Linked DNA regions of Homo sapiens. The protein of the gene in region 2 interacts with the protein of the main gene of each other region in a biochemical or structural test. Each region holds a gene or a part of one and is shown on either strand. Other genes may lie near its edges.

The links. The genes of interacting proteins can lie anywhere in the genome.
Region 1: the proteins of ARNT (region 2) and NPAS2 form a complex in vitro, tested with the Homo sapiens proteins (one study listed by BioGRID).

What each region holds. Positions count from the first base shown.
Region 1 is NC_000002.12:100,823,139-100,826,638, forward strand, and holds part of NPAS2 (neuronal PAS domain-containing protein 2), read left to right. Parts: intron 1-3,500. UniProt on the Homo sapiens protein: Transcriptional activator which forms a core component of the circadian clock.
Region 2 is NC_000001.11:150,866,381-150,870,388, forward strand, and holds part of ARNT (aryl hydrocarbon receptor nuclear translocator), read right to left. Parts: intron 1-4,008. UniProt on the Homo sapiens protein: Required for activity of the AHR. Upon ligand binding, AHR translocates into the nucleus, where it heterodimerizes with ARNT and induces transcription by binding to xenobiotic response elements (XRE).

The DNA of each region.
Region 1 (3,500 bases), on a different chromosome or scaffold from region 2:
ATTTCTGAATGCTAATGGGGTACTTAACTATGAGTAATTCTATTTTAAATCTCAAGGTGATGATGATTAATAGTATCTCAGGGCACTAAATAAACATGTATTAAATATGAGCGTATGTTTAAAGGGGGAGTTTTTAATGCAGTCTTTAAGGCACAACTGCTTCTCACTTGAATTCTTTAACTGAGATTAAGGAGTCCTTGGCATTTTAAGCAAAGTCATTTCTTAGGTAAAGTTCCCCCAGAGACCACTTGAACTTTTGCAAGTCTTAAAACAATGGGTGGTTCCATTTGATGGTTCAGAATAGAAAGGAGAGTGTTGATCCTCTACACTGGTATGAAAAAAACTGTATAAGGAGATGGAGGATGCTGGATATCATAGTGCCCGAGAATCACCTGGGGCCCTTGTCAAACACAGATTCTAACTCAGGACACCTGGGAGAGGACCCGAGCTGCATTTCTCACAGCTACCAGATGCTGCACGCTGGCAAGGTTTTGGGATGCACTGAATCCAGTTCAGCATGTTTACTGAGCATATACCACATAGAGAGCCCAGATGATAAAAAAATGAGAAGATGGGTTGTACCTGCCCTTGAGGAGCTAACAAGGTGAGGTGGCAGGGAGAGAGAGAGGGATTGTAAACTGAAAATGAGGTTCTGGGATGCCATTCTCTGGGGTGGTGGCCAGAAAGGGGCCCAGGAAAGGAGAGTTGCTGGTAGGGCTTCCACATTGCTGACCTTGACCTGTAGTCATATTTGAATGGAGAGCCTTGTGACTTGGCAAGAAATAAAATGCAGATTTTGAAGTCAGACAGACCTGGGGTAGCCTCCCAGCTCAGCTATGGCAACTTTTAACCTGAGACTCAGAGTCCTTGTCAGAAAAACAGTGCAAATGATGCTTACCTTGCCAAGTTTGTAGAATTACCAGTAAAGGACGCGTGTTAGGCCTAACAAAAGTGATTGCTTTTATTACTGTTGATAGGAGAGAGGAGGCTGGAAAGCAAGGAGGACGAAGAGGTTACTAAAATATGTTCCATGTAGTTCACCAATTAGAGATTCAATTTGGTTTACCAGCAAACCCAAGGCCGGCCGTGGAGAACCGGGCCAGGGCTGGAGGGCAGGCAGCTGTGGAAGCTAATCAGAGGCAAAATGGAAAATTATTGGGAGCATGCTTATCTCCACCCTCTCCTGCAGTCCCTGGCTTCTGGTTTGCTTTGTTGATAGCCCTTCCTAGGATATTTTCATCTGAAGCTTTTCTTGGTACTTAAGCTGTAGGTTCTGTTGATCAAGACTGCTAGTGGCAATCAAGCGCTCTTTAAAAATGTAGTGGAGAGGACAAACACCTCTCCTCTTTGAGGGGCATTGGTCTATTCTGTGGTGGGTCACTTTCCAGGATCAAAGCCATCAATCTGTCTTTCCACCATAGTACGAGTTACTTGAAACTAGTGCCGAGCGTGTTGGAATTCACCTGGGGTGCCTTTTATGCTTTGCACTCTAAGATATTGCTTCCTCCTGCCATCTAGGAGAGATGGATATTGCAAGGCAATGGTGTCCTTCACCCTGATATTAGGAGGGGTCACCTGGGTGGCCCTGAAAACACTTCAACCAACATCACTCTGATTTTTTAAAATATATTTTGGGATTCCATTTATTATTTGCAAAGGCGATTTCTCTGCTACCATTTGCCTTCCACGCTCCCTGAAAGTAAATCTTGAAAACCAAGTTCTAAGAGAATGGCAATGGCAGTTTGATGTTTAGGGGGAAGGAAAAGCAGAGGAACCCCCTGGAGCCAAGGCAGGCCTGGGTGAGGGTGGAGACGAGAGAGGGAAAGGAAGGCATCGTCAGGCATGGGAGTACCAGGATGGAAATGGGAGCAGTGGTGGGGGCTGAAGCTGAGAGGTTGGACCCTAGGACTCAATTTGTGGACTTTGTTGCTTTGCTGAAGGCCGTGGCAGATAATGTTCCCAGACCACTGAAAATCATCCAGGCTTCCAGAAAACACAGGCCCATCTAAAGACAGACAGGTGACGAGGTGACAGAACCTAGTGGCGTGATTCTTCTAGCCTCTTCTGAGCCAAAAATGACATGCACAATTTTATGAATGATATTTGTGCCCCTTGGTGATAAAATATTAAGAGCTCGAGGTCATCTGAAAATTATTGGTTTTTTGTTTATAAAAGTACATAGTTTTTGGAAAAGATAGAAAAGAAGGAAAAAACCCCACAATTTCAAGATATATTTTCCGTTCAGTGTTTTTTCTATGCATTGAAATATTTTTATATTAGTTTATCTTAAAAAGCACATGGATATAATCTTGTAAAAATTTTCAAATAGCACAGAACCATTTCTAGTAGAAAGAAAAAAAATTCCCTTCATCCTTGTGGCCTACCCATAATCATCGCCCTATCTTTTATTTGCCTAGCAGAAACTGGATTTTGTACAGTAGACTGCCAACCCACACCTGCCTCTGGAGGTTTATCAGATTGGCCACTCAACCCTGGTGAGGGTGGGGCTGCTGCCCTTGCCAGTGACTGGCTCAGGGTGAGCATGCGGACCCTGTTCTAGCCAATAAAATGTGAGGGTGGGCCACTGGGAGGCTTCTGGGAAAGTTTCCCTGCTCTCAAAAGAGACAAGGAAGGAAACAGTCCTTTCCTTCCACTAGATACTGTGATATGTGGCCATAATGCCTGCAAACTGGGCAGCCATCAGCCACCAGAGGGGCTGGGCCAGGTCTCAGCTGACCTGCGGAAGAATGCAAAGGTGAAGAAGGGCAGGGGGCGGGGAGGTCTCCGTGGTGCCCTTGACTTTCTGAATTACACAAAGAAGAGTCTGTTTTTGAACATGTGTGAGATCATGAAACCATTACCAGATGAAGCAAACTGAGCTAGTTTTTCTGTTGTAGCCAAAAGCATCCCATAACTCTCCACCTTTCTCAGGAGGTAATGACTGATAACCATGGGGCATGTTCTGCTAGTCATTTTTGGCGCATTTACATATACACACACATATGTACACTTTTAAAAACTAAGGCCGGGTGCACTGACTCACGCCTGTAATCCCAGCACTTTGGGAGGCCGAGGCGGGCGGATCACGAGGTCAGGAGTTCGAGACAATCCTGGCCAACATGGTGAAACCCTGTCTCTACTAAAAATATAAAAATTAGCTGGGCATGGTGGCACATGTCTGTAATCCTGGCTACTCAGGAGGCTGAGGCAGGAGAATCACTTGAACCAGCGAGTCGGAGGTTGAAGTGAGCCAAGATCCTGCCACTGCACTCCAGCCTGGCAACAGAGCAAGACTTTGTCTCAAAAAAATAAAATTAAACTAAAAAATAAAAACAAAAACTGAACTCATTTTATGTATATTATTTAGCAACTTAATATGGCATGGATTTTTAATGACATACCTTTTTCTTTATTTTTAAAGGCTACAGAGTATTATTCAGAAGTACAAATAGGACGTTATTTAACCCATCCCTATTAATAAATAATCTATTGAGTTGACT
Region 2 (4,008 bases):
GAAGCTTATAGGATATTCTCTATCTGATGCTGAAATTTCAGCATAATGGGCCTTGATGTGTGCACAGCCCCTTTGATCTGGAAACTAATGTCTTTCACTGGGACACTTTATTTAAACAGAAACAAAGAATTCTGTTAAAAGAAATAAAAATGATGCCACTGGAGAGAAGGAAATGAGAGAAAGGGAGCAGAGGACTCCCTTATAATTTTTTTGTAACAAACATTTTATAAAACTATCTAAGTCTTTAAATATTAATATATGGATGTATAGTTTTGATTTAAATAACTTTTATATATGTATGTATACACACATACATATACACACACACACACGTATATTTGGCAAAAGACCTGAGAAGAGTTAATAACCCAGATAAACACATAAAAAATAAAATCCAAACACTTATAGTTCCTTAGCCTGGGGAAATGAAAAACTGAATTGTGATAGTGATGAAAGATACAGAAAGGTAGGAAGAACAGCAGATTTAAAGGAAATACTGGTGAGTACATACATATATAGGATGTTAAAGATTATTCAAATAGAGGCTGGGCGCAATGGCTCACACTTGTAATCCCAGCACTGTGGGAGGCCAAGGCAGGTGGATCACTTGAGGACGGGAGTTCAAGACCAGCCTGGCCAACATGGTGAAACCCCATCTCTACTAAAGATACAAAAAATTAGCCAGGCGTGGTGGCACACTGTAGTCCCAGCTACTCGAGAGGCTGAGGCACAAAAATCATTTGAACCTAGGAGGCGGAGGCTGCGGTGAGCCAAGATCGCACCACTGCACTCCAGCCTGGGCAACACAGAAAGACTCTGTCTTTAAAAAAAACAACAACAACAAAAAAAAACAGATTACTCAAATAGAGCTGGGCATCGTGTCATACACCTATAATCCCAGCTACTAGGGAGACCAAGATGGGGGGACTACTTGAGCTCAGCAGTTCAAGACCAGTCTGGGCAATACAGTGAGACCTCATTTCTATAAATTAAAAAAAAAAAAAACTATTCAAACAGAGATGCAGCCAGGCACAATGGCACACACCTGTAGTCCAGCTACTCAGGTTGCTGAAGTGGGAGGAATGCTTGAGCCCAGGATTTCAAGACCAGCCTGGGCAACATAGTAAAACCCTGTCTCAACTTTAAAAGAAAAAGAGAGAGATATCTTTTAAATAGATAAAAATATAGGAAAGTAGTTTATGTGAGAAGCCAGGAATGAAATTTTTGGAGTCTTTTATACATAAAAGATAAATAAAGGGTGATATGGTTTGGCTCTGTGTGTCTCCACCCAAATATCATGTCAAATTGTAATCCCCAGTGTTGAAGGTGCAGTCTGGTGGGAGGTTATTGGATCATAGGGGTGGTTTCCAAAGGTTTAGCACCATTCCCCTAATGCTCTCTCATGATAGAGTTCTCAAGAGATCTGGTTGTTTGAAAGTGTGTAGCACCTTCCCCTTCTCTCCCTCTATCCTGCCAGCCATGTGAAGACATGCTTGCTTCCCCTTCGCCTTCCGCCATGATTCCAAGTTTCCTGAGGCCTCCCCAGCCCTGCCTCCCATACAGCCTGCGGAACTATGAGTCAATTAAACCTCTTTTCTTCATAAATTACCCAGTCTCAGGTAGTTATTTATAGCAGTGTGAGAATGGACTAATACAAAGGGAAGAGGACTATGGTAGGTACCAAGTGAATGTCAAATTGAAGTAGGAAGGCAAGCAGCTAGAAAGGCAGGTAGGTGGGCAAATGGGAAGAAATGAAGGAAACTGCTTGGTTTACTATTTAGTTCTAGCCCCAAGCCGGGCACTGTGGTGTACACTTGTAATCCCAGCTACTCAGGAAGCAGAGGTGGGAGGATCATTTGAGCTCAGGAATCCAAGACCAACGTGGGCAACATAGCAAGACCCTGTCTCAAAAAAGAGTCAAGACCCTGTCTCAAAGAAGAGTCCTAGCCTCAAGGGTGAGAAGAGAAAAGTAGAAGCATACTGAACAAGAGAAAGAAACAAGCAGAAAGATAAGCAAAAAGGACAAAGAAGGAACAATCAGTGATAAAGACCTAGCAACAGTGTCTCTGAAACCAAGTTTCTAGGAGAGGCTCAATTATGGAGTATCAAGAACTTGTAGAGGATTCTAATAACAATCCTAAAAGCTGCAGTGCATGATTCATGCCTGTAATCTCAGCAATCTGGGAGGCCAACAGCAGGAGGATCACTCGAGGACAGTAGTTCAAGACCAGCCTGGGCAGGCCGGGCGCGGTGGCTCACGCCTGTAATCCCAGCACTTTGGGAGGCCGAGGTGGGCAGATCACGAGGTCAGGAGATCGAGACCATCCTGGCCAACATGGTGAAACCCCGTCTCTACTAAAAACACAAAAATTAGCCAGGCGCGGTGGCACGTGCCTGTAGTCCCAGCTACAGGAGGCTGAGGCAGGAGAATCGCTTAAACCCGGGAGGCAGAGGTTGCAGTGAGCCGAGATCACGCCACTGCACTCCAGCCTGGGTGACAAAGCAAGACTCCGTCTCAAAAAATAATAATAAAATTTAAAAAAAAAAGGACCAGCCTGGGCAACATAGCGAGATCCTGTCTCTACAAAATTAAAAAATTAGCTGGGCATGATGGTGCATACCTATGGTCCCAACTATTCAGGAAACTGAGGAGTGAGAATCGCTTGAGCCTAGGAATTGGAGGTGTTGCAGGAAGCTATGGTCACGCTACTGCACTCCAGCCTGGCTGACACAACAGGACCTTGTCTCAAAAAAACCCTTAAAAGTATTTAAAGAATTGAAACATAGAACTAGGAGAAAGAAATATAGAATGTTAGGCTGGGCGCGCTAGCTCAAGCCTATAATCCCAGCACTTTGGGAGGCTGAGGTGGGCGGATCACAAGGTCAGGAGATCGAGGCCATCCTGGCTAACACAGTGAAACCCCATCTCCACTAAAAACACAAAAAATTAGCAGGGCATGGTGGTGGATGCCTGTAGTCCCAGCTACTCGCGAGGATGAGGCAGGAGAATGGCGTGAACCTGGGAGGCGGAGCTTGCAGTGAGCTGAGATCGTGCCACTGCACCCCAGCCTGGGTGACAGAAGGACACTCAGTCTCAAAAAAACAAAACAAAACAAAATGAAGAATTATAGAATGTTACAGAAAAGATTTTAGGAAACTACTCCTTTTTTTTTTTTTTTCCTAGAGACAGGGGCTCACTCTGTCAACCAGATTAGAGTCCAGTGGCATGATCATGGCTCACTGCAGCCCTGACCTAGCAAGCTCAGAGATCCTCCCACCACCTCAGCCTCCCAAGTAGTTGGGACTATAGGCATCCACCACCACATCTAGCTAATTTTTTTATATATATTTTTGTGGAGACAAGGTCTCCCTATATTGCTCAGGCTGGTCTCCAACTCCTGGGCTTAAACAATCCTCTCACCCTGGCCTCTCAAAGTGCTGAGATTACAGGTATGAGCCACCACACTCAGCCTGGAAACTACTGTTCTAGCTCCTTTTTTTAGCACCTTGCACTTGGTTCTCCAACCAAGCAATGCCTTGCCCCCAGGCTGCCTAATGTGGTATTTCACCCTTTTCATCTACAAAAAAGACAATACTCCACCTACCTCCTTCTCAAAAGATATCCATTGTACTATATTTCAGTAGGAAGGTGACTCTAAGTCACAATGGAAAAAATCATAACTTGGAGATTAAGAATGATGACTGTGTAGATGGACTGCCAACAATAAAATTCTGTCTCTAACTTCTAGTAGCTATGTGACTTCAGACAAGTTACTTATTCACTCTCTGTGCCTTAGTTTCCTCATCTGTAAAACAAGAATAATAATACTTACCTAATACGATTGTTATAAAAATTAAATGAGAACAGCTGGTAAGTATTACTAATAAATATTAGATATTATTATAGTTAGTACAAATTCATGATGTCAATGGCTTAATTAGTTTTATCCCTTCAAAGGTATTTCATATTAACAGTGGGTTTTACATTCATTTTTATTCCACAAACAT